Regions from separate parts of the Homo sapiens genome. Here regions 2 and 3 are each reported to be linked to region 1. Evidence: microRNA targets listed by miRTarBase, many of them from high-throughput screens and not tested one by one. Region 1 holds a microRNA gene; each other region holds the end of a gene's coding sequence.
The links. The annotated mature microRNA hsa-miR-4666b reads UUGCAUGUCAGAUUGUAAUUCCC and lies in region 1 at 1,395-1,417, shown strand. An mRNA with a match to its seed (bases 2 to 7 or 8) in the 3' UTR can be bound and repressed. Matches are read on the target gene's strand: a 7mer-m8 pairs with bases 2 to 8, a 7mer-A1 pairs with bases 2 to 7 and ends in A, and an 8mer does both.

Region 1 (5,000 bases):
TCAATTGCCTGAAATTAATACATTAAAATAACAGAAAAATAGTGTTATCTTAGTCTGTTTGGGCTGCTATAACAAAATACTTTAGACTTGTAATTTACAAACAATAGGAATTTATTTCTCACAGTTCTAGATGCTGGGAAGTCCAAGATCAAGGCACCAGCAATATCAGTGTCTGGTGAGAGCTCTCTGCTTCATAGATGGTGGCTTGTTGCTGTGTCCTCACATCATGGAAGGACAAACAAACTCTCTCAGGCTTCCTTTATAAGGGCATTAATCCCATTCAGGAGGGTTCCACCCTCATGATATAGTCACTTCACAAAGGCCCCACCTATTAATACATTTGGGATTGCATTTCAACATATAAATCATTGAGGGACACAACATTCAGACCATAACAAGAATAAGCTTGGATTTGGAAAGAATTTGAAAAGGAAAGTAGGAATACAATTGACTTTCCCAAGTTCATAGGTAGTAACAAAGAATGAGCAATAATCAAGATGCCTTTGTTCTTATCTTTCCCCAACTCAAATAAGTTATATATAAAAATTCATTTCTTACTAGGTCCATTATACTTGTCTATCTCTTGAAAACTTGAGTGTCCTAATGAAATGAGACTTCTATTTTGTAAGATGAGAGAAAGGTGAGGCAAATATTCTGAGGCACCTTCTAGACTGCAGAGCAACATGCACTGAGTTTTTTGAAAGATTTACCAGTTTTAAAAAATAAATGCTGTCTTGTTCTTCATCATCCTCCCATCACTGGCATATCTTGGTAAAAGTGAGATGTTATCAGTGAGAGCCCTTTAGGTAGATCCTCGTAAAAGTTACCATTTTGAGAATTGTATTTATGATTGTTGGTGTGTTAACAAAATCATGTTGCAAGAGAAATGGACTTTTGGCTAACTGCCTAGCTCTATTATCCTAGAAACTAGTTAAATGGTATATGTCAACTATTTTATGATAAAAATGTCCCCCGTGGATGGATGAGATGTATCTAGGTTGGAAGAACCATAAATACTTGAGAAGAAGTCACAGCTTTGGGTGTTCCTAGGTGCAGGGACTCTTGATATGGGGCATATCCCTTGAAGGTCTTTGGAAGCTGTATTAGTCCATTCTCACATTGCTATAAAGAACTACCTGAGACTGGGTAATTTATAAAGAAAAGAGATTTAATTGTCTCATGGTTCCACAGACTGTACAGGAAACATGGCTGGGGAGGCCTCAGGAAACTTATAATCATGGTAGAAGGCGAAGGGGAAAGCAAACATGTCCTATGTGGCTGGAGCAGGAGGAAGAGAGCAAAGAGCGAGGTGCTACACAACCAGATCTCCTGAGAACTTACTCACTATCATGAGAACAGCAAGGGGAAAATCTGCCTCCATGATCATGTCTAAATTGCATGTCAGATTGTAATTCCCAGGCCCTTCCTCCAATACTGGGAATTACAATTTGACATGCAATTTAGACAGTGACACAAATCCAAACCATAACTTTCCGTCCCTGGCCCCTCCCAAATCTCATGTCCTTCTCACATGGCAAAATACAAGTATCCCTTCTCAACAGTCCCCCAAGTCTTAACTTATTCCAGCATTAACTCAAAAGTCCGCAGTCTGAAGTCTCATGTGAGACAAGGCGAGTCCCTTCTACCTATGAGCCTGTAAAATAAAAAACAAGTTAGTTAATTCCAAGATACAATATGTCTTGGCTATTAGCATTCGGCTCCTCTTTACTTATGCAAATCTCTGCAGCCAGCTTGAGTACTCCCCAGAAAACAGGTTTTTCTTTTCTACCACATGATCAGGCTGCAACTTCTCCAAACTTTTACCCTCTGCTACCCTTTTAAATATAAGTTCCAGTTTCAGATCATCCCTTTGCTCATGCATATGCTGTTAGAAGCAGCCAGGCAACATCTTGAATGCTTTGCTGCTTAGAAATTTCTTCCACCAGATACTCTAAATCGTCTCTCTCAAGTTCAAAGTTCCACAGATCCCTAGAGCAGGGGCACAGTGCTGACAGTCTCTTTGCTGAAGCATAACAAGAGTGACCTTTGCTCCAGTTCCCAATAAGTTCCTCATCTTCATCTGAGACCACCTCAGCCTGGGTTTCATTGTCCATATCACTATCAGCATTTTGGTCACAACAATTTAACAAGTCTCTAGAAAGTTCCAATCTTTCCCTCAGCTTCCCATCTTCTTCTGAGCCCTCCAACTGTTCCACCCTCTGTCCATTAACCAGTCCCGAAGCTGCTTCCACCTTTTCAGGTATCTTTATAGCAATGTCCCATTTCCCAGTACCACTTTTCTGTATTAATCAGGGTTCTCCAGAGGGACAGAACTAATAGGATATGTGTATATATCAGAGGAAGTTTATTAGGGAGAACTGGCTCACATGAACCCAAGTCAAAGTCCCCAAAAGTCTCCAAGCTGGGAAAACAAGGAAATAGTAGTGGCTCAGTCCGAGTCCAAAAACCTCAAAAGCGGGGAAGCCAGCAGTGCAGCCTTCAGTCTGTGGCTGAAGGGCTGACAGCCCCCAGCAAATCACTGGTGTATGTCCAAGAGCCCAAAGGCCAAAGAACCTGGAGTCTGATGTCCAAGGGCAGAAGACTCCACAAGCCAGCTTATCCCACCTTCTTCTGCCTGCTTTGTTCTAGCTGCACTGGCAGCCAGTTGGATGGTGCCCACCCACATTGAGGGTGGATCTTTCTCTCCTATTCCACTGACTAAAATGTCAATCTCCTCTGGCAACACCCTCACAGACACACTCAGAAACAATACCAGCTAGCTAGGCATTCTGCAATCCAATCAAGTTGCCACCTAATATTAACCACTACAGAAGCTGTCAGTGGTGTTGTCCTGAATGACGTTGGCCTGTACCTGTTAGGGTGATAGCTCTTCTAAATCAGAACAATTTCCCCATCTCAATAATGTGGATCTGTTTCCTTGAACCTAAACTGTGTCTCTGAGGGTATAGCTTCCAGAGGGCTGTGTGAGCTGTCATACACATGAAATGCAGCAAGGACTCTTATGGAGAGGACCTCTATCACCTGACGTAGTTTCTGAGAAGACTCATGGCAACAGCGCCTATCATAGTTTTGAGTGTCTGAATGTTTAATTAAATCTACAGTGACCCCTTGGAGGGTGATTGAATGATATTTCTCTACTCTCCAAATATGCAACTTCGTTCTTACCCTCTGCATCATCATTTATAAAATAGAAAGACTAGAGCTGGTTTTCTCCAGGTGTGGATCTCTGATAATCCTCAGCAGAGTCACTTGGGATACAGATTCTCAGGTCTCAACCAAGAGAAATTAAATCAGGATCTTTGAGGTTAGGGTCCTGTAATCTTCTTTTTTAACACCTTCTCCTCCCCATGGTACTTGAATACACAGCTGGACAAGATGCTCATTAGTTTATTTTCTATTTTAGCCCTTGACCTTATAATTCTAATGATTTGTTCCTCCCATTCTACATAATGTCTTAATGCAATTCAAATCTCATTTCTTCAGAAGACCATCAAGGAATAAATAACTGGGAGTTTCAGAAATGGCAACAGTTTAGGGAAAATCTCTGTAGTTAAGTCAGGTTTGAGAAACCCCTGGAACAATTTGTTGTAATTGTATACTTTTTTAAAGATCCTTTTGGTCCCCTGTAATCCTTATGATTATTAAAACATACAGGTCCTTAGCACCATATAACGATTCTGTTTAAACTGTTGGCTTTTCTTTTTTTTCAACATGCTATCACCATTGTCACTGTTGCCTTGACTGTAGGGTAGTGACTTGCTAGAAGGTCAGAGATTATATTAGGTCTTACCAAACAAGTGAAAATCAATATTTTCACTCTCTTTAGGAGAATGAGTTTCATATATACTCGAGATGAAAGAAAAATTCCCTTTGTTGTTCTGCTGAAGTTGTCAAGCCTTCCATTAGTCTAGGTTAAGTTTCTGGGGTTATGAATTTAATTTTGGTTTCTAATATTGATTTATATTTCATAAAGACTTTGTTGGTTACAAAAAAAAAATCCTCAGTAAATTTTTCTACTTCAAGGGCAGTGCTTTAGTTTAGAAAAAGATGTGTTTCTCAGTGATTTAGTTTCCATTTCTGGACTTAACAATAATGAGTGAAACAGGAAATTTTGCTGTGAATTATGAAAGGTTATTATACAGTATTTCCAAGCCACTCAAAATTATGCATTCATCTTAGGCTCTTAAATTTAACAAAACTGAATGAGATTCAATACTATTTTCTCTGTTTTATCAAAATGTTATTGAAAGTTGTTTAAGATTTTATACTCCTCGAGGGCACATATCTTTTGTCATCTTTGCATTTTCAGTAGTGTTTTTATACTGCAGATAATTTATGCACATTTTATAAATGAGTGAACAAATAGATGTTATGAAAAAAAAGTACTGTTATCAGATTCCAGGATAAAGTAAAAAGCAATATTTAGCAATCCTCCATATACTACAATGCCCTACCCAAGCCTGTTAATTCCACTCCTCATCCTCATCCTGCCACAAACATTTTCAGAAGTCCTCAGACATCTCTGCTATATTCCCTAACTTGCCCCAAACTCCCGTGATCCAAAAGTAGGCTTCCCTTTCTCAATTAAACTTCCCTTTCGCTCAGTACCCCAATCTGAGCTTGCTATCCTGCGGAGAGTTACCTGGGAAATGAAGAGATGCAGCTGTATGATATATATGAACAAGTTTACCCTTACTGGGGAGATTTGTATTTTAAAAGATGGTGATGGAAAACTACAGTGATATATACATGCTAACTTTTCCCAATGTTCAAATTTCAGGTAGTGGGACATATGGCAAAGGTATTTTTCAATAGCAACCTAAAGACCTCTCAGGGAGGTGACCTCCTTTTCTGCCTCCAAGTATTGCTGGTTCTGCTATAACCTGATATGATTTTTTATTTATAGAGTGCTTTTTATAAGTTGCCTTCTTCAGGAAACATAAAAGAGTGGGAGGGGAAATGAATAATCTCTCATGCTT
Region 2 (10,859 bases), not on the chromosome of region 1:
AATCTCACCACCTCTTTAAGCAGTCTATTCCACTTGTGAACACCTCTAATATTTAGGTAATTTATCCTTGTATATTTAGCCTAAATATGCCTCTCTTTTTTTATTACACTCTAAGTTCTAGGGTACATGTGCACAATGTGCAGGTTTGTTACATATGTATACATGTGCCATGTTGGTGTGCTGCACCCATTAACTTGTCATTTACATTAGGTATATCTCCTAATGCTATCCCTCCCCCCTACCCCCACCCCACAACAGGCCCTGGTGTGTGATGTTCCCCACCCTGTGTCCACGTGTTCTCATTGTTCAATTCCCACCTATGAGTGAGAACATGCTGTGTTTGGTTTTCTGTCCTTGAGATAGTTTGCTGAGAATGATGGTTTCCAGCTTCATCCATGTCCCTGCAAAGGACATGAACTCATTCTTTTTTATGGCTGCATAGTATTCCATGGTATAGATGTGCCACATTTTCTTTATCCAGTCTATTATTGATGGACATTTGGGTTGGTTCCAAGTCTTTGCTATTGTGAATAGTGCTGCAATAAACATATGTGTGCATGTGTCTCTATAGCGGAATGACTGATAATCCTTTGAGTATATACCCAGTAATGGGATGGCTGGGTCAAATGGTATTTCTAGTTCTAGATCCTTGAGGAATCGCCACACTGTCTTCCACAATGGTTGAACTAGTTTTTAGTCCCACCAACAGTATAAAAGTGTTTCTATTTCTCCACATCCTCTCCAGCACCTGCTGTTTCCTGACTTTTTAATGATCGCCATTCTAACTGGTGTGAGATGGTATCTCATTGTGGTTTTGATTTGCATTTCTCTGACGGCCAGTGATGATGAGCATTTTTTATGTGTCTGTTGGCTGCATAAATGTCTTCATCTCCACCTACTAATCCTCATACTTCCCCACAGAATTTATTTAATTTTTTTCTCAATAGCCCATCAAATATTTGGTGACAGTGATCACAGGCCATGTCTCCCTCTTGAAGTCCGCTCTTCCCCAAGATACAGCCCAGATGTCCCAAGCACTTCTCCTTTGACATGGTTATGTTTTTTTCATCATCCTGTTTCTTACGGATGGGAATTCTAATTTGCTGATGCCCCTCTTCCCATGTGGCCTCAAGTTCAGAATGCAGTTTCTTGGGTGTCATCTGAGCAGGCCTGGTAAGCCAGGGAGAAGCCAGGCTGAGGCTGCATGGTGGTGCCCTAGAATGGCCCAAGTCTGCCTGGCTCATCACCATCTCCTCTGAAGACAGGAGGAACCATGAGTGGCCTGTGTCCACGTACAGGCTGGGAGGAAACAGCTGAGGGTTGGGGGTGGGGTGGGCAATGAGATGGGGTTAAGTGGAGAAAATTCTCAGCAAAGGTGGTCAAAGGGATTAGGAAGTGGGTTGGAGAGAGTAGCATGGAAGTGGTTGGCCCCAGGGGTAAGGTGGAGTAAGAGTTCAGCACAGCCACTCTGAGAAACTGGGTGGAAATGAAAAGGTTCCATAAGTGGAAGCCAGGTTTGCTGGAAGTGGGTCAAGTGTCCAGAAAATCCTGATAAAGCAGTGACAAATGGGACAGCCTAATGAATGTATCTTTTTTGCAGGGGACTCCCTCAGCTATCATCAAGGACGCCCTTTCTCCACAGAGGATAGAGACAATGATGTTGCAGTGACTAACTGTGCCATGTCGTACAAGGGAGCATGGTGGTATAAGAACTGCCACCGGACCAACCTCAATGGGAAGTACGGGGAGTCCAGGCACAGTCAGGTAAGCGATGCTCCACCTCTGCTATGAATGAGCCAGAGCTGTGGAATCCGTGCTCCCTTAGCTTTATATTTTAAAAGCACATGTGAGTCCTTCATTTCCCTTTAAAAAGAAATATTTTGAGTCTTGAGAAAAATAATGCAGACAATGGGATAAGATCAGGACAGAGTAGAAGCCAGAGGAAGGAAAGGAAAGGACCCAGGAGCCAGAACTTACCCAGAGAAGCCCTTGGATCCAGAAGATCCCATGAAGAGAGCTTATCAGTCCTGGGGACAGCTTCACAGACTCAACTTTACCCTAAAAATGGTCCCAGGAAGGTAGACATCGAAAATACCAGTGTGAACTGGACAATCTTTCCCTATCAGAGACCACAAGTTTATAGGCTAAGCTGGGTGACAGGGAGACCACCATGACCAACTAGACTTTCTAAGTGTTAACACTGAAACAGCCCACATCAGGGAAGCCCTTCAGTTCTAGGCAAACCAAAAGGGTTTGTCACCCTAGGTAGAAACCGCCTAAGTCTCCCATTAGGAGTGAGCAGTCAAACACAGTTATTCTCTTCCAAATGCTTCCACCCTGTTGGGATTTCACAACCATCTACTGGTGCATGCCACTCCTGGAAGCCAAAAACAAAGCTGGCAATAAGGAATGACCTGCAACATGTTCCCTGGAAAGACCCAGGCCACCGGCACATTTAAGGAGAAAGCTAGAAAGAGACTCTGCCCCTTTCACTTTATTGGGAACTCGGCCTTGAAGCTTCATGTTAGCTGAAAATAGCTAACCCCACATTGTGGATTCCCTGTTCCCATAATTACCCCTTTTTTGAAGTGGGGCGTTCCATGGTGGGGGATGACCTGACATGCTTATCTTTCTCACGCCCAGGGCATCAACTGGTACCATTGGAAAGGCCATGAGTTCTCCATCCCCTTTGTGGAAATGAAGATGCGCCCCTACAACCACCGTCTCATGGCAGGGAGAAAACGGCAGTCCTTACAGTTCTGAGCAGTGGGCGGCTGCAAGCCAACCAATATTTTCTGTCATTTGTTTGTATTTTATAATATGAAACAAGGGGGGAGGGTAATAGCAATGTGTTTTGCAACATATTAAGAGTATGTGAAGGAAGCAGGGATGTCGCAGGAATCCGCTGGCTAACATCTGCTCTTGGTTTCTGCTGCCCTGGAGCCTGACCCTCAGTCTCCATTCTCCCTCCTACCCAGGCCTCCTCAACCTTCACCTCCTTTCCCACCAAGGAGGAGAAGTAGGAAGTTTTCTTAAAGGGCCAATTCAAAGCCAAGTCGTGGGGTGCAGATTGTTATGGTGACAGGCACACACATTTTTCTACCCTTCTTCTGAGATGTCCTCTGCCTTCCAGGTATTTGTGATTTTGTCACAGCCTGACATGGCCAGGTTCTCACACTGGCCCAGAGAAAAGAGCCTCAGCAAGAGAGTTTTGCCAACAATTCCCCTTAAAAGGAAACAGATCAACTACACCGCATCCCAACAACCCAGGTTCTTTTCCTTCCTTCCTTCCTTCCTCCCTTCCTTCTTTCCTGCCTTCCCTCCTTCCCTCCTTTCTTTCTTGACAGTATCTCACTCTTGCTCAGTCTGGAGTGCAGTGGTGCAATCTCAGCTCACTACAGCCTCGACTTCCTGAGCTTAAGTGATCCTCTCGTCTCAGCCTCTTGAGTAGCTGGGACTACAGGCATGAGCCACCATACCTGGCTGATTTTTCTTTTATTTTTTGTAGAGATGGGGGTCTCACTGTGTTGTCCAGGCTGGTCACAAACTCCTGGCCTTGAACAATCCTCCCACCTCAGCCTCCCAAAATGCTGGGATTACAGGCTACAGCCACTGCATCCAGCCCCAAGTCCTTTATAATGGGCCAAAGATTCTCATCTTCTGACACTCTTATTATACCAGCCACATGTCCTGTTACCTTTCAAGAACAGTGGCTCTTTTCTGGCCCTGATGGAGTCTTTTGCCTAATCCCATCCTGTCTTAGACCCCAGAGCCTCAAAAGCCCAACCAGCATTTTGGAATCTAGTTCCCAAGGCATTGCCTGCTCCTGGCCCTGGGTGGCACAGTGGCTATGTGCCTGTGAGTCATCAGCCACTGCCCCCACCCTCAGGTCAGACAGACAGTCACTTTCTGCAAAGGTAGGAGGGGGAGATGGTTGTAGTTTTTAGCACTTTTGGGTCAAGCATTGAGGAAAGGACTGAAGAAGTCAAAATCAGGGCACTGCCATAGAGATTATAGTTTCCATGGGAAACACAGATCTTCCCTAGCCCTGTTTTCTCCATTTCTGGTCCTATTTGTCACAGATTCTTTTTTTCTGAATTGCAAACCGAAGGCCTCATATCTATCTTCACCCAAGCCCTCCTTAGTGTAGGTGGCTTAATAAGAGTCAGGAGAAGAAGGTATATGCCCAGAGAGCTATACCCCTGACTGATAATCCTGGAAAGAGGTTGATTTTTTTTTTCTTTTTTGGTCCTATGGGAAACAGGAATGACCTTCTTAATGAGGTGAGATCATGAGAAGCCTTTCCATCTTCTTTTATTATTCTGCCTTGCAAAGGAAAAATGACAATAGCCAAAGGAAATTACATCCAGAAATCCAAAGGTGAATAGGTGATAACTGTGGGCCTACTTCCCATTTTATGAGATGCACTGTCTTCACTAGCACAATTTGATCTTAAGCCCAAGAGAGCTAGATGCTCTAGAAGCCGTGACCTTTCAATTTCTCCTCCAAATCCAATATCAGCAACCATCCCCGCAACATCTGCCCAGATCCATGCCCAGTTCCCTGAGCTGTCTTCTCCCTTTCCTCTCCCATTCCTCAAGGCCCAGCACCATTTTCTGTAGTGCCTATGTTTGTCTGACCAGAGCAGTGTGTACCTTTGCCAACCAGTTACTGGATGAGCCTTAGTGTCGGCAATTTTCTAATGGAAATATCCTCACTCTTACCAAGCTTTGAGAACCAAGATGAAAAGTCCCTTGGGCTGACCATCAGGCCTCGGACCTCATGGGGATGCAGCCAGCCACCATTGAATGGAGGCGCTTCCCTTGCCGCAGGCTTCTAGGCTTTGTTCACTGCGGCAGTGTGGATGTGACAGGCATAACCCTGAAAAACCTAGGCACCACTTGCATTTCTCAGTTAACCATGGGCTTCAACAAACTGGGAGGAGGAAAAAACAGAAACAGATCCTTTCAACAAGCATGTAAATTACAGAAGACTTACCTAGAGACGGGGCAACAATGAATAGTAGGAAGCACATTGCATGGGAAACTTGAGGGCCGAGGTACAGGCCAACAGCTGTCATCTTAGCTACGACATGACATCGGCTGGGTTGTTTCACCTCTCTGGGCCAGTTTCTTCATCTGTCAGATGAGAGATTAGACTAGAATGAGTTCTAATTTCCCTTTCAGTTTTGACGGTCAATGATGCTAATCTGTGATCTGAAAACCTAAGTAGAAATTGGCATGGTGGGACAGCACAATTAGGTAATGAAAATTCACTAGACTCCCTGTTTAATGAGGAAAGAAGGAAAGAAGGAAGGAAGGAAGGAAGGAAAGAAGGAAGGGGAGGGAGGGAGGGAAAGAAAAGAGAGAGATTGATTCAGGAGTCATAAGTAAAACACACACACACACACACACACACACACGAAAATACTGCAGAAAAGATCATGCCGAGTGAGAGGCTGAACTCTTTTTGTCCATAAAAACAGAGACCAGGTACCTGGGTGGTGCCAGCACGCCCACTTCATCAAGGAAGTTGAAATGGAAAAAGATTATGTGTTGTCAATTCAGGTGAAAGTCAAGAAACATCAGTGGAAACAAAAATCTTCCTTTTATTGAAACCATTCTACACTATGGAACATTTTTATAAATAGTACCAGCGGCATTGCATAGCTTTATTTTGAAGCAAGAAAGAGACTTCAAAGATCAGCTTATTCAACCCTCTATAAAAGGATTTATAGATTCCTTTTATTTAATAGGGTGATTTTCTCATGAGTTTTCACCATGTTTAAAAGACACTGTGCCCCACTCTCATCCCAAGGTCTATGGTCAACTTGACTCAATGCTCATAACTTTCCTCGCTGATTCCTGCTTATCCTGCTCCTCCAAGCACAACTGCATTTCCCAAAGGTAGATCCAGTAAGCAATACTCTCAAAGCACCCACCCTATGCACACCAGTTTCCCTCAAGGGACTCAAAAGGAATCGAGGTAGACCCTTCTCAGAGGCTGTTTAACTACAGACACATCAGGATATGTACTAATACCCAAAACCAAAACCACCACCAATGACTGCAATAGATTCACTGTCTAGACCCAAGGTCCAGGCAGTTTCCCTTTTTTGCATTTCCCCAACATATAAAGATAATTTCCAACATATCAGATGCACATTCACCAGGGTTATTTCTGGAAGGTGAAGGGGTCAGGTGTAGAAGAGGTGGCAAGAATGACAAGTCTGTGGAAAACTGTTGGCCTTGAGACCACAGTGAACTGGTGGAAGGGGACTTGCTAAGTGTGGCCACAAGGTGGCAGTCACCTCCTGAAACCCCGTGTGAAACGTCAGCGGGGTTGAGAAAGGCCACGTCTCCAAGTTTCCAGGAGAGCCAAACCAGGACTCAGGAAAACCGGCCAGCTGATTTGTATGGGAGATTGATTTGTAAAAGAACAACAACAACATATGGCAGCAAGGAAATGCAAAGCAAACATCTACAAATATTTGAATCCACCTGTCCCTCACCTACCAACTTCCCCCTCTACTACTCATAAAGTGGTAGGACTCCTAATGCCCCGCTTCCTTCCACCTGAGAACCAACCAGCACCCTGATATTTCAAAGCCAGACCTAAAGAACCATGGTTGCCAATAACCTCAATGCCAAACCAAACAATCCTAATCACATTTTTACTTTTCAAATCCAGTCTCAGAGCAGAGCTGTAGATTAAGGGACAAAAAGTCATTGTGGAATCTTTTCAAATAGCTCTTGTAAAAGCATCAGTTGGGAAAGAGTTTATGAGTTCCTCTTTGTCCTCTCCTCTGGAGAAAAGACAGAACATGCAAGAACACTAGATACACCAAGCTATGGGTGTTGAAATAGACTAGCTGGTGACCTGGATTTGCAAATACCCTAGGGACATGAAAACATTTTTTCTTTTTCTTTTTCTTTTTTGTAACCTCCACCCAGAATTTCAGGAAAGGTGGGGCCACATGCCCAGGATATATGGTATTCTACTGCTTGCTTTCTTATCACCAGAATACTAGTCAATCTGATTTCTTAGTTCCATGTCTTTTCTTCCAAGGAGGTAGGGCATGGGGTTGGGGGACACTTTCCGCCTTCCTTGCATCTCACTGTCCACTCTTAAATTTTTATTAAGAAACCTCTGAAAGATTCAAAATTCAGTTCAGTTTCAATAATCCCAAAGAAGTTGGGATAATTTGTTTTCACTTGCTTCAAACTTGCCACGGCTGCAGGAGGAGTCTCAGGACCTCAGAGGAATGGGGCAGATGTGTGAAGTCTGGGAGTCTGCCTCCCACCCAGATGCCAGGAGCTGCATACTCAGCTCTGCCTCACTTCCCTGATGGTCTGCTTTCATCCAGGTTACCATGACAGAGAGGGTCTATCCTCTAAAGAAAGCTGAGTTACAGGCTGGCCCCTGGGGTTGTTCCTGTAGCCTCTCTTTGACCACATTCCTGAAGATGTTTAGCTGAATGCCTCCTCAAACCTTTGCTTCTTCCATAACCCAATCCTACACATATGTGATAAAGCTTTCTTCAACAATACTGGGTCATTTGGACACTACCAGTCCAGATGAGAACTCACAGACCAAATGAAAACTTTCAAAAGCAAGCAGGGAAAGTAACTCCTATATGCTTTAAGATGATGTATTGGTGTAGATTCAGGTCCAATTTGAAAAAATGTCTCTGGTTCTTTCTAATTGTATCCACTCTGGATTTGTTTATGCCAGTTCTACATTCATCAAGCCTTGAGAAACAGGTGGAAAGAAGAAAAATATAAAATTAAGAAGAAGCTGATGGATCATTGGAGATTCAAAACAAGCCTTCTACCGGTGGCACCACACTGAAAGGCAGAGACAAGGCAGGAGCGGCCATGGGAGAGGAAGCAGCATTGGCTTCTCACGTTCTGGCCTCCAGCCTCCCACCAGAGCTTCTGCCATTCACCCACTTAACTTGAGGAGAAACTAAGGCACCAAGGCCTGTCACTGCACCGAAAACCAGAAGCAGAAGGACTTTCTTTCTTTGCTCAACCAGTTCTGCCTGGATCTGACTTTTGCGTCACCAGTAGTCACAAGCCTGATTTGTCATCTCCAGCATTCTGTTTATTTTTTTAAGGTCAATCTTTGCCTGAAACATGACTTCATTGCACCTGCAGCACTTCATTGTCCAAATGTCCTTGGCAAACCTCACAGTCTTTGGACAGTGTTGCATTTTCTCCAAAGGGGAAATCCTCTCTCCTTCCTCAAGCTTAATAAGGCTCTTGCAGTGCATCCAAATAACACAGCTCTTGTTCCTCAGACACACTCAGCCCCCTCTGATAACTTCATAAAACAGCTCCTTATTGTCTGGGCCATGAAGCCAGGCTAATGCTAAAGTTCCAGTTCAAAAACATTTAACTCTATTATCCTTATGAGGCCAGCTCTCCTGGGTACTGGCACTCACTCACTGGCACCATGGATTCAGGTCAGGTGGTGCAAACATCTTCCCTGAGAAGCAAGCCATACACCCAACAGGTCTAGAACACCTAGGTCACAAGAAAGGGTTTCAGTCCAGATGCACTGTCAGTAAGTGAACACAAGGACAAGAATGCATGAACTGTTATTTTCTTCCCATCACTGGTTTAGCAGCCCCTAGGGAGACCCTGTGTTGCTCTTTAATATTCTGACATGGAGCACTAATATGCTCAACACTGCCTCCAACAGGCAAATGTTGGAAATACACTTTCAGAGCTGGATGGGACTCAAGATCATCTAATATAATCCTCTCATTTTATTTCCTCTCAAGGAAACCAAGGGCAAGAAAGTTTAGGCAATTTGCTCACATTCACACAGGCAATTAGTAACAGAGCTGAGTTCGGGTCTGGTATAGGCTTTTTAATTTGATTCTCCACAAATGAACACTAAGATAAATAGCATTTATTGCATACCCACTATTTACCAGATACTGTGCAAAGGGCTTTACATATATTACTTTACTAAATCCTCACCATAAACTTTAAGTCAGGTTTAACCATTTTATAGAAGAGGGAAGGGAGGGCCAGGAAGGTTAAGTAACATGCTCAAAGTCACACAGCTACTAAATAGAGCCATAATCTGAACCTTTGTCTAATTTTGAAGCCCTTGATTTTTCCACTTCATGAGGCTGCTCTTTATATTTATTTAGCTGAGTGACCACCATCTTGGATTTTACTAATATTCTTACAAGGGGGCTTTGATGCCACTTCTTCTGACTTTTAAGAAAAGGAAATTCTTGCATTATTTTTGCCATGTACTCCAGGGGACCCTCAATCTCATCATCATGGGGAATAAGAAACATTCTGACATCTCTTTCCTTTTCTTTCTTTTTAAATTTGGTAGACGAGGGAGAGGGTCCCCAACAGAATGAGAGGGGGAAGATAAGAACCAGAACATAAACCCAATACCCCCCACCCCACTCTTTTGGGAACATCCCAACATTAGAAGAGTGGGATATCCAGTCATTTTTTTCAAGCTGGAGCAGGCAGTGTAGCCAGGATTGAGGAAGGAGAAGCCACAGAATAAACATGGCACATGTTCTCAGAGCATCAATTTTACTCCAGAATTTGGGAAGAAAGGATTATATTATTAGTGTATTCAAACCAGTATGGATAGCACAAATGCAGATATCCTATAAATTTTGAGGCTAACTCCAGCAGGTTGTAGACTGATTTAGGCTACCTCCTTCCAGACTCCCAGGGGTACAAACACCTTCACAGTCCCCTGCGGGAGTACATCAGTGGAAATATTTGGGGAATGAGGCTAGAAGGCAGGAGATACATTCAGTTTACTTATCCCCCTGGTTTCTTTTCCCCACTCCTTACCTGCCCCACATCCCTAGTGGGTGGGAAGGCATCAGAAGACAGTTGGCTACAATATCAGCTTTCTCTGCTACTTTGGGGAATTTAGAAGGAAATCAGTACTTGGCAACCTGGTATTTTTAGCTGCCAGGCCAAAACTCCAGACATAAACCCCTTCCCTTTAATTGAATGATGTTTATATATAAAGGAATAGATCTCCCCAAGAAAGAACCCCAGAACACTGGTTCCATTCCAGTGTGGGGGCTGCTTGGGCAGCAGTGACACCTGTGCATTAGATGCAATAGACACTTCAATTCCTGCAAAAATGTCGGCCAACTAAGTGCTCCTTTACCAACTGCGGAGGCCCAGACTCACACCATGGTCCCACAGACTCAAGGTTTAGAATCTATGTGAGTCTATTTTGGTTAACACACAGGCTCCTCCTTCCAATCATTCACACACACACACACACACACACACACACACACATGCACACACACACATGCATGCACACATACACAGGTGCACATGCACAAACACACACATCTAATGATTCCAACCTCGAATACTCCCCAGGCCCATGGGGATGCCCAAGTACCCTAAGCAAATCACTGTGACACTGAGGGGGTCATTAACTGGGGCTCCGAGCAGCTGAAACCCACCCTGGTGGTCTCTAGATTGTTGTTCTGAGAAATCATAAACACCAAATCCTCCAATCCCTTTGAATTTGAGTTTGTCATTTTAACCTTTAACAGCCTTTTCAGGTAAAAATAACAAAGACCAATTTATTGACTTTGTAGCTACAATGAGCTTGAAAAAGCGCTTACTTAAAAGAAAGACTGGAAGGAAGAAAAAAAAAAGAAAATGGAGTACATACTCCTCAGACGATGCACACTTTAATTAGCTAAAATAAAAATAAAAATGTACAGAGGAAGGGAGAGGAAAAACCAACTTCTCTGATCCTTTCATGGCACTGTAGCTCAAAGACTGGAATCTCTGCTTGTTAACCATTGTTAACTAGTATTTTTAGTCCTGGTTGCT
Region 3 (10,859 bases), not on the chromosome of region 1:
CCATACGCCTCCCGATCCAGAATAGAAAGAGAAAACAAGACTGCTCAGAGTGAACAAGTCACAGCAGCAGGAAGTCGCAGGAATCGGACCACAAGTAAAAAACATGATCAGGCACCACAAACAGCCTTGCTCTGTGCTCAGGACAGTTCATTTAATCCTCACGCAGCCCCACAAGGTAGATGAGGAAGCTGAGTCTTCAAGAAGTAAAACAGCCTGCTCAAAGTCACCAGTAAGCAACACTGGGATATGAGCACAGGCGTGTGTGGCTTGCAAGCCAGGCTCTGTCTGTAAGGATTTAGGGGAGGTGGTGTGTATCTGGGATCACGGAGCACAGGACACAAGCTGGGACCCTTCTGGGTCTCACTGGGACTTCCGTGTACAAATGCACACATTGTAAGTGTTGGGGTTCATCAGGAGGCTCTCGGACATCTAGCAAAGGCTGAGTTTTGATAATGACCCTCATACATTTTGCTGGTGGACACGACAGTACGGAGTCTCTCCCCCAGCCTAAATTTAGCAAAATACCACCGGCCCTGGGGCCCCAGGAGAGCAGCTCCTTCGCCTCACTCCCTACTGCACCCTTTTCATTAGGGACTCTTTCCCTTCCCCTTTCACTTTCTATGTGGGATGCAGCTGAAGTCTCCCTGAGCCTCAAGGCCCATGAGGGTGACAGGAGAAAAGCCAGGGTAGAGATTGTCACTACTGTTATCTCACTGGTGGTCCTGACCCCACAGCCCTTCTACCAGTGCCGTATCCTCAGCGTGTGCCCGGTGAGTCATGGTGGTGGAGACCCACAGTCATTTCCCAAGCTTCATGCTCTCAGCCACGTGATTCCACCTGTGCCGCACTTCCTCAGTTTATCTGCTGTGTCCACCGTGCTGACACGGCGATAGCCACTGGGGGCCTAGCAGTAACCACACCCTGTCTCATGGAGCTAGCTCTCTAATGGGACACATGACCACACAGTTCATAATGATGGTGGGGAGTGCCCTCTATGGAGGGGATGTAAGAGTACTTACAGTTGGGGTCATCTAGGCAGGAAAAGTATGGTCATGTTCCCCAGAACTCTTAGAAATGGATCACGAGGTAGATGAGCTTACAGGAAACCGGGCCAGCATGGTGCCATAGAACAGTTCCCATCCCTGCCAAATTCTTCAGCCCTTGTGTCCAAGGTCAGATGCCTTGTCTTCCACAAAACATTCCCTGGCGTCCACCCTTCGTCCCCTTCAGCTACAAGTGACCCTCCTCTCCTGCAAGTATTCATCCTTCTGAAGGCTGGGCGCCAGGCACTAACAGACAGGCAGCTGCCTCCCAGACATAAGGAGCATGGGTCCTAACCAGGAATAAGCTTCACAGCCATTGCTGTCAGGCCAAGCCGTGGTCCAGGCACCTGCAGGCATTAATTCGTGTCCTCAGCCCCACACCCACGGGGAGCAGGTGTAGTTACTATTCCCACTTTCGCGATAAGGAAGCACAAGGAAAGTACATCGCTCAGATGTAAAGACACAAAGAAATAATCAGAGGTGTGATGAGTGCTACAGACGCCTTATAGGCATGGGTAGCAGGGACCTTGTTATAGGGAAATCACAAAGGAGGGTCGGTCTGGTGATGTAGCTAAGACCTCAAGTCTGAGAGTCAGACTTTGATTCCAGTCCCTGCTCCGCAAGTGATCAGTTGTGTGACTTTAAGTACATCACTGAACTTCTCCAGGCTTCACTTCGAGCCACTGTAAAATAAGGATGCTAATATCCACCTTACGGAGTTAAACATGGTCCTCTGCACAGACTTAGCAGAGCGCCTGGCAGGTGTTGAGTTCGGGAAGTCGTAGTTTATTGCCCTCTGGTCTGTGATGCGACCCTGGCTTGCCTCTCTGTTAGGCTGCAACATCGCTGTGGCAGTGTCTATATCCGATCCAACCCCGTGTCCCTCCCCCAGAACCCTCCCTAAGGTCATGCATTTCTGTTAGGCGCTCAGTGAGTATTTGTAGATTGCATGAACGAGGGAGGGAATGCATGAGTGAGTAGCTGTCACCACATGGCAGGTATCTTTGCTGAACACTGGTTTAGTCTTCTGACAAAAGCCTCCTAATGTAGCCGCTTCAGACGAGAGCAGGCTTTTTTCTCTGAAGTACCCAGCCAACATCGTCTGGCGGTGTCTGACTCTGTGGTGTTGGCGGGGACACGAACCAAGCACAGCTTGATTTTTATGGTTTAATGTAAGAGATGGAGCCTCCACCACTGTCGCTTCAGAAGATTGTTGTTTTGACGTCTCAGCCACACAAATGGAGTGAAACTGCCATTATAGGAGATAAGCAGGGGAGACTGAGGTGTCAGGATTTAGGACCCTGCCTTCAAAGCAGATCCACCTGTTGCCCCCACAGTTTGCGAGTGGCTCCATTGAACACAAAGGGACTGATGGTTGAATGCAGGCGGGCTGCCGGGTGCCCCCATCTGAGGACGTCTAACTGTGTCCCTTCTTTGTCTCCCGTCCCTCCCCACTGTCCTCGCTCTGCAGGAATGGCATCACCAGCTGCCGGATGCGGACTGAGAGTGAGCCATCTTGTGGCTCCCCAGTGGTCAGCGGAGACCCCAAGGAGGATCACAACTACAGCAGTGCCAAGTCCTCCAACGCCCGGAGCACCTCGCCCACCAGCGACTCCATCTCCTCCTCCTCCTCCTCAGCCGACGACCACTATGAGTTTGCCACCAAGGGGAGCCAGGAGGGCAGCGAGGGCAGCGAGGGGAGCTTCCGGAGCCACGAGAGCCCCAGCGACACGGAAGAGGACGACAGGAAGCACAGCCAGAAGGAGCCCAAGGATTCTCTGGGGGACAGCGGGTACGCATCCCAGCACAAGAAGCGCCAGCACTTCGCCAAGGCCAGGAAGGTCCCCAGCGACACACTGCCCCTCAAAAAGAGACGCACCGAAAAGCCCCCCGAGAGCGATGATGAGGAGATGAAAGAAGCGGCAGGGTCCCTCCTGCACTTAGCAGGGATCCGGTCCTGTTTGAATAACATCACCAATCGGACGGCAAAGGGGCAGAAAGAGCAAAAGGAAACCACAAAAAATTAAAAACAAGTCACTGATTTGTTTTGAACTTACGACCATTTGGTTTCAGCATGTCAGGAGATTTCTAATGATTTGTGGCAATATCAGCAATTTTTTTTCTTTTTTCTTGTTTTTGGTTTGGTTTTCTTTCTTTTCTTTTCCTTTTATTTTGTTTTAATTTGCCCCCTCTTCTTTGTTTTGGACCCTTAAGAATTTTATTTTTAAAGGAGATTGAAGCCATAGAACTCATATTGACACTCAGCTGTTTTACAAAAGCTTTTCATTATCTGAAGACAAAACCGAAAAAGCCAAAATTACCATTGCTTCCTCCAGCTTGTCAGAAACCTGTGGCTGAATCCGCAGGGATGTCAACGTCAATATCACAGGAACACACATTCGGCACCTAGAAGGCACGTGGGCAAAGTAATCATCGTTCAGGCCCAACCCTTAGGTTTAAAAAGTCAGGTTGTCCATCCCATTGGGTTCACTGAGTGAAGGCACATAAAGCAATTGAGGAGGAGGAGGAACCCCTCGTCCCCCTAGGAGCAGACCCAAGCTTGTGGCACCAGGCATCTGATGGTGCCAGGAAAGCCACTGGAATTGTCACACGGCGAGCACAGAGGGCCGGCCACCAGTCCTCGATGCTTCTGAACCCTGAAGCCCGATGACATCTTACGAGGTGGACGTTGGACTGTTCATGCGCATCGGGTGTCAGTGACTCATGGAGAAGAAATGGGGTAAATTTTTAGTGATGTTGCTAATCATTGAATTCTGTTCTCTATTAAATTAAGAAAATGTTCCAAAAGCCATAAGCCTGAAGATTGGCCCTGTGCACGCACGCACACACACACACACACACACACACACACACACACACACACGAAGGAGAGAGAGAGAAAACTGATGGGGAAAACAAGCTGTGTCTTCTTAACTGCCCAAGTGAAAAGCAACCAAGTCCAGGAAATTACAATAGCTGTTAAGGAAAGGAAATAATGGTACAGATCTTTTTCTGTCTATCAAAACTATTTGATCCAAGTGAAAAAAAAAAAAAAACTAGAAAGCTACGGAACCTGCCATTAGTATTGTGGTGTATTTTTAAGATTAAAGGTACACTGATGGACAAAAAAAAAAAGTAAAACATGGCAAAAAATAAAATAACTCCTATACTGCCCTCAAAATGGAGTTTGCAATTAATATCAGGATTTATCTTTGCAAAAATCAGTGATTTCCACATTCAGCCAGTATAGCCAGCAGAAATTTCTGATCCACAATGCATGGATTCCTTTGAAGAAAAAAAAGAAAAAGAGAAAAAAATCACAAAAACAAACTTTTTTTATTCAAAAGTAACAAAGTTCTTGTAAGGTAAATAATGTATTTAGCATGAAGCATGAATTATTTTCATATAAATATAGAAAATAGAGAAAAGGCTATGCCTGTAATTTTTAAGCCCTTAGGCTTAGAGTTTCTTTTGGTTTTCTTCTTTTTTCTTTCCTTTTCTTTGCTTTCTTTTTTTCCTTTTTGTTTTTGTTTTTGTTTTTTGTTTTTGTTTTTTTTTCGGGTTATTTTGTTTTGGTTTTTTGAAGCAGGTGTTTAAGGTTTAACCTTCTTCAGGGACAAATTCTGACTGTTGGGGAACTTACTCTGCAATATAAAAATATCTTCATGCTCTGGTAGGGCTTGGATGGTTGAACTCTGTACTGCCTTGTGTGCACTTCAGCCCCGACCCCCTCTGATTCTCTGTTGAAAAGTGTGTCCTTTCTCTCTGTCTGTACATGTTTAACATGACGCAATAATTTGAGGGCAAACTTAGTAGTGAGTGTGTATGATAGAATCAAGAGAATTATGGGACGCTTACTTGAGAAAATCATTACCATGATTTGGTTCTAGGAAAAAGGCAGTGAATAATTATGCAAATTAGCCAGAAGAAGGGGAACCGTGCTAATGGGCCTTATTGGGTGAGGGGACGAGATGGGGTTCATGTGAAGGAGGAAGCGATGCCGAGGTAGGAAAGGCCAGCCCCAGACATCCTATCGCCACAATGCCATGTCGCAATAGGAAGCAGGGGCCGGCCATCGCTACCTTCAGCACACTGACCAACCTGGAATTAAGACCACCTAGATTGCGAGAGCTGAATTTAGAAACCAGACAACGTCATGCAGCCCAGAAACTCCTGTTGTTACCTTTGCCTAAGAAATTTTCTTTAATGGCGGGGGCGGGGGGCGGGGGTACAAAGAGAAATCTCTAAAAGAATATGATCTTCCATCCAAGTGGAGGGAAACTTTAAAACAAAAACACCCAGTACTGTGGCTCAGGATATGATGCGTGAGGAGAGGGAGGGAACAGAGATGACCTTAACTTTTAAAAAAGGGACTGCTGTGGGCCAAAGCCAAGCCCATCTGCCAGGACGAGGTAATGTCAGAGCTCCATCAGCCCGGACAGTGGGAACTAACTGGTGCATTCCCCACACTTACCTTCCGGTGGGTTGCTGATGAGAGAACCTGAAAAAACCTACACCTCTACAGCAGGTCGAATTCATGACCTGAAGCTGAATACTTCCAGCATATTTATTCAGGGTGTAGGTGGGAATAAAGTATCTTCGCAGTGCTCTGTTCCCTCCGTCTCCCCAGACATCTGACACCCTAAAAGCCATCCACAGCTATGGAACCTGAGCGACACCTTGATTTGTGTTGTCACCTGACCAAGCCTAAAGACCTCCAGCTCAGTCCCCCACCTTCATCCCACCCCACAGATGATAAAATTCAGACCTCTCTCCTGAAAGGCAGAGGTTCAACATTCAGGACTGTTTCTGGCCGAGGACTTCTTCCAATTAAAACCCCCACCGTGGGCTGTCTCCCCTCATTTCATTTTTCTAAAGGGGCAGAGGCCTCTTTTAGAAAATAATAAAATGCAATGTGTGTGATTTACTTTTCTGATCTCTTTGAGAAATAGAGAAATATAAAAGTGTGTTCTTAACTCCAGAACCACTCTTTTTGCATAAATACCTCATCGGGCAGCTTTCTAAGTGTGATTTTCCTGAGTCTCCCTTCGTTGGATCTGCCGGAAGACTTGTCGGGGAACCTTTAGTGAGGGTACTTCTTCCTATTTTTCTTCTGTTTTTGGAGGCATACACATTATGCATAACCAAAACAATGGCTCAATTGTGTTTAACTTTGTATTTTGATTGTTGAGAACAAAAACAAAAAGTATCAATGTGTATGTGGCTGTTTGTAGTGAATTTATTGGAGAATGAGGTTGTCCGTGTCCTTAACAAGCCAAGGGGCAGGAGGCACCCTCTCTTATCCCCTCCTCCAAGAGCAGTAGAGAATTTAAGCACAAGCCTATTTGTGAAAGAATATTTTGCTTAAGTGTCATTCACTTTAGTCTTGGAATTCCTTCCCAAACGTCAGGTGTTCTTTTAGCTTCCAAACTAGCATATGTATCCATTAGTCTGACAGATCGCCTGAACACCATTAAGAGGTGTGGCGTTTTTGCTTTCATTTCTCCTGCTGGGAGAAGTGGCGGTTCATGTGTCATTCCAGTATCTCACATACTCACACGGGGCAGGGGGGAGGGGGAAACGGGGAACTATAGCAATATTTAAAGATGCTTTGGAAACCAACCGTGAACACATCAACACCACGACGTCTACGATTACTTGCTATTGGCCCTCGGATACATTTAAGAGAAAGAGACAGTCACTCTTTTTTTTCTTAAATGATATACATATAAACAGTTATTTTTATCCTATTATAATTGTCTTTTGTCTTTATCTAGTACTATGTGGAAAGGGTTTGCATCATAGATTTTTCCCAGCCTTATAATATACCATAAGCTCCTACTTCCCTGCCCCTCCCTAATCAGTATTCTTTCAAGAGTTCTTTGGTGAAGCCATCTATCTGAAACTAAAATGAACCAAACCCATATTTCACTGGTGGTTGGAGAAAACCATGGCCAAAACGATTGTGGCAGGTCTCAATCTTGGGAGTTTTTAAGAAGGAATGTGCCAGAGGCCGATTCCCAAGAACAGAGTTTTCTTTTGTTTTGCAGAGGCATTCAATGTGTCTAGTGCTTGCTGGCCACAGCAGTTACTACCACAGAGCCTTCTGGGAGGGGCCGTTGTGTTGAAGGAGGCTCCTGCCTGAGGGACAGCATCAGGCAGTGGGCTCTGTAGAGTGAGAACCAGGTGGAGGCCTTCTGTGCCCAGCTCAGAGTTCTGCACCACGCCAGGACTGCCCAGGCCAAGGGCTACTGACGCAAGTTCCACTCATTCCACTCTGTGGGGGGCGCCTTGGGCCTCTCCTGGAAGGGCTCTTGGAGAAGGAATTGGAGTTACGTACAAGTGACCTAAATGGGAAGCTTTTCTAGATGAGATTGGATTAAATTCCATGTGATTTCTCTTTCCCTTTAATCCAGGTTGGGACTCGTTTCTTTCTGGTGGATCACAGCTGCCCAGATGTTGCAATTGATTTTTATGTTTCTGTAGAGAAGTATTTTTCTTTCATCTTCAGGATTTTTTTTGCCACCAAAAGAAAACATTGGAACTCTGTGTTTCCTCTTGATTGTGACTTCCCAGTGTTGACAGTTAAGTCCTTAGTGTCGTAGGTCCCAGCCCACCAATACTATATCAAACACTGTTATGCACATAATGCAGCACTGTGATCTAATTTAAATAATACTTTTTTATTATTTATACTACTATATATAATATACATCAACACTTTTGCTATATAACCTAAGTGATAACCCTCTTTTAGTTACCTGCCAAACTCTGGACTTGGTTTATATTGCAGTTAACACAGTTACAAAGCTGTAATGGTGTCTTTTTTTCCTTTGTAACGGAATGTGTAAATCAAAGTATATACATTGTGTGGTGTTCCTGTTTCTGGAGTTTCATGAGGATTTACACATGGCATTCAGTGTTCTGTATAGATCTGCCTACCTTTGTGAATTCATCTGTTAACCCCTCTTCCTTTGAGAGAGCACCGGCGATGGTGGTTAACTCCTTGTGTTTTCTCTCTCTCCTACTGGTTATTCTTGAATTAAGCACAGACTCGTCAGCTCGGTTGCTTTATCATGAATAATGTGTGTGACCTTGCAGTTCTTCCACAGTTCAGCAAACAAGTGCTAGCTTCACTGACCAAAAATTAAGGAAGGAAAACACAGTTTTTAAAACGATCCATCTTTTAACAGCCGAAACCGATGTGTCTATGGTGCTGCACCTTGCTGTTGTACTTCTGAAATCAGACGTGTGTGAACGATCATTTCTGACTTAACCGTGAGATGCTCACGAGTACCCTTCCTGTTGTTTTGTTAGCATTGAAATCGAGACTATTTATTTGGAATATATACAACAGTGTTTTTCCACTGTATTTCATTTGCAAAAGTTGAGAACTGCTTTCTCTACCTTTTGCAAAATAATTGATATTCCATATTGGATTCTCAAAGACTTCGATATGGTGAACCTATTAAACCTAGAAATTGTATTCATCCTTTCATGACTGTGGCCTGAGTTCCCCAGCCCCTCTCCTCCTTTTTTTTAGATGAGATTTAGCACACTCTCAGTTATTTAAACATGCAACATTTCTTGAGTATGTATGTTGAGGCCATCTGAGCTCATAGCTGATTCAGTAACCAGTTTCATGCTGTGTCATTCACACTCACTACTTAATACTGCCATGGTGAAAATGTGGAGGAAAAATGTATCCATGTGTGTCTGGGAAGCATATACACTTGTACATTTTTTAATACTCTGATTCTGTAACATTTCTGAGTTTTGTTTTGTTTTACAGAAAAAAAAAAAAAGTGATAAAGCAATCAGAAGACCAAGAGGTTTACTATTGATGCTTAGGGTCGTCTGACCTTGGCTGGCCAATAGACCTACACGGCCAAATTAATTTACGAGAGTAATAATTTTTCAAAAGCCAATTTTTTTTCTGTATTTTCTGTATGAAACTGCCAATATCATGAATAGAAAGGGAGAACCATAAAGGAGAAAGAACGTGATGTTCTGTTATGTTCATGTAAACCTAAAGAAACAGTGTGGAGGCAGGCGCGATCAGCCGAACTCTAGGGACTTGGTGTTGCTTGGAAGGCATCCATACCTGCATTTTGCATTCTTCGTATGTAATCATATTGCCAAAGACAAACTATTTCATCATTTATTGTAAATAACACTTTTCCCCAGACCTACCATAAAGTTTCTGTGATGTATTGTCTTCCAGTTGCAATAAAAATTACTGAGTTGCATCAATTGAAGAAAAACACCACGTAGTGTTATGTGTGCTGCGCCTCCCTGTGCAGATGCTGGTCCACAACGTCATTTCTGTTCCTTACCTGCGGTCAGGCGTGTGTGCAGTTTTTGCAGTCTGGTTTCGGGGTTCTCAGCTGCATTTATTGTGCCCATCCTCACACGTGCGTAGGCTTGGGTGGGCATCACACACTGCTCTGCAAACACAAATGCACATTCGGAAGCTGGGCTTACCCGGGATCTCAAGAGAATTCCAGCTTTGGTGTAGCTGGTGGCTGGCCAGCCTCCCATCATGAGCCTTAAGACTTGTGGTTTAGACAGAGCTTCCCTTTCATTTGGAAGTTGTCAAACAATAAACTGCAATTGTACTTTAGTACTGGAGCCTGCCAGCCTATCCCAGATCCTGAGGGTTTCTTGTAATGACATTCCTAGCCCTAAGACCTTCATCTGCCAGGGTTTATTACGTCATCACTCAAGTGCCCACCCCAGACCCTCGCACACACATCCCCCAGGAGCCAACAAGGAGCTGATGGGAGAGAGGGGAGTGGGAACAAGGAAGGGATCACAGGGCACCACTCACCGTGCTGGAGGAGTAGAAAGAGGATGTTCTCGTGCATCTCTCTGGTTCCTTTTGTGATGGTTTTGTTTTCAGCATGTCCTGTCTGCAGGTCTTGCCACCAACAGTAACCGTAGTGTAGAGTTGGCCTTGGACACTACCCTTCTGCTGGGCCCCCACATCCACTGGTGTCTTTGTTCTCCAAGATGCTTGGGCTGCGTCTCCTGTCCTCCTGCAGTTATGGTATCATTCTGAGGTCATAGGCCCATCTGTCCTGGTAAGCTTACGGGGATAAATTCCTCCCCGTTACCCATCTCAAGGTGGTCACCTCTGGATCCTGTGGGTTTGGCCCTTATTGCTGCCATATCTGATCCCACTGTTGAATCACTTTCAAAGCTGTGATGTGTCCTCCAGGGTACAAATCAATATTTGAGGAGACTTGATTGGGAGGAAGAGCTAAAGTCATTGGGAGCTGAATCTGATGAATCAAGTAATCATCTAAATTGGGTAGTGCTTGAGGCCAAATATAAGGTGGGGCCACCTTAAAACAGCACCTACAACAACCATTTTCAATAAGTGACTCTCGAGACTGGAGGAGAGACCCCACGTGGATGATCAGCATGCCTGAGGGAGCCCTGTCTAAATGATCACACCTGCAAAATTCTGATCAGGTAACACTGTCTTCAAATTCCTATGGGTTCTTAGAGAAGGGAACTTCTCCCCATGGTGTCAGGGACCATGAAGGCTCTTCTGGGTTTGAAGCTGAGTCTGGATGGGTGCCAGTGAGGGGCACTGCAGACCCTAAACAGTTTTCTCCTTACCTTTTGACTGCACTGCCTGATGAAAGTATGAACCAAGAAGTCACCATCCTTCTAGAAAGTTATGAACAGATGAGGGCATTTTCGGGAGTCTGATATGACTAGGAGGTTTTTATGAGCTAAAAGCTCATGTTCTGGTTACCCTAATTCCAGATCACCAAACCAAATGGCCCTACATATGCCAGCAGAAGT

Region 2: miRTarBase lists TNR as a target of hsa-miR-4666b. Seed matches in the 3' UTR shown: 8mer at 6,822-6,829, 7mer-m8 at 10,305-10,311, 7mer-m8 at 10,319-10,325 and 7mer-m8 at 10,345-10,351.
Region 3: the mRNA of FOXN3 is a reported target of hsa-miR-4666b. Seed matches in the 3' UTR shown: 8mer at 8,617-8,624.

Annotation. Positions count from the first base shown.
Region 1 is chrX:29,572,892-29,577,891 of GRCh38, forward strand. MIR4666B (microRNA 4666b) reads left to right here and starts at 1,387; the gene lies at 1,387-1,467. The region is part of intron 5 of IL1RAPL1 (interleukin 1 receptor accessory protein like 1); the gene reads left to right.
Region 2 is chr1:175,315,261-175,326,119 of GRCh38, reverse strand. TNR (tenascin R) reads left to right here. Exons shown (of 23, transcript NM_003285.3): 22 at 1,601-1,764; 23 at 2,644-10,859. The coding sequence ends at 2,763. It overlaps LOC105371623 (a long non-coding RNA gene), which reads right to left. Exons shown (of 4, transcript XR_001738302.2): 2 at 4,999-5,138. Among named protein-coding and RNA genes, the nearest start is that of KIAA0040, 130 kb to the right of the region's middle.
Region 3 is chr14:89,154,625-89,165,483 of GRCh38, reverse strand. It overlaps FOXN3 (forkhead box N3), which reads left to right. Exons shown (of 6, transcript NM_005197.4): 6 at 2,515-9,307. The coding sequence ends at 3,070. Among named protein-coding and RNA genes, the nearest start is that of TRA-AGC15-1, 180 kb to the right of the region's middle. RefSeq lists enhancers at 1-67, 268-317, 1-493.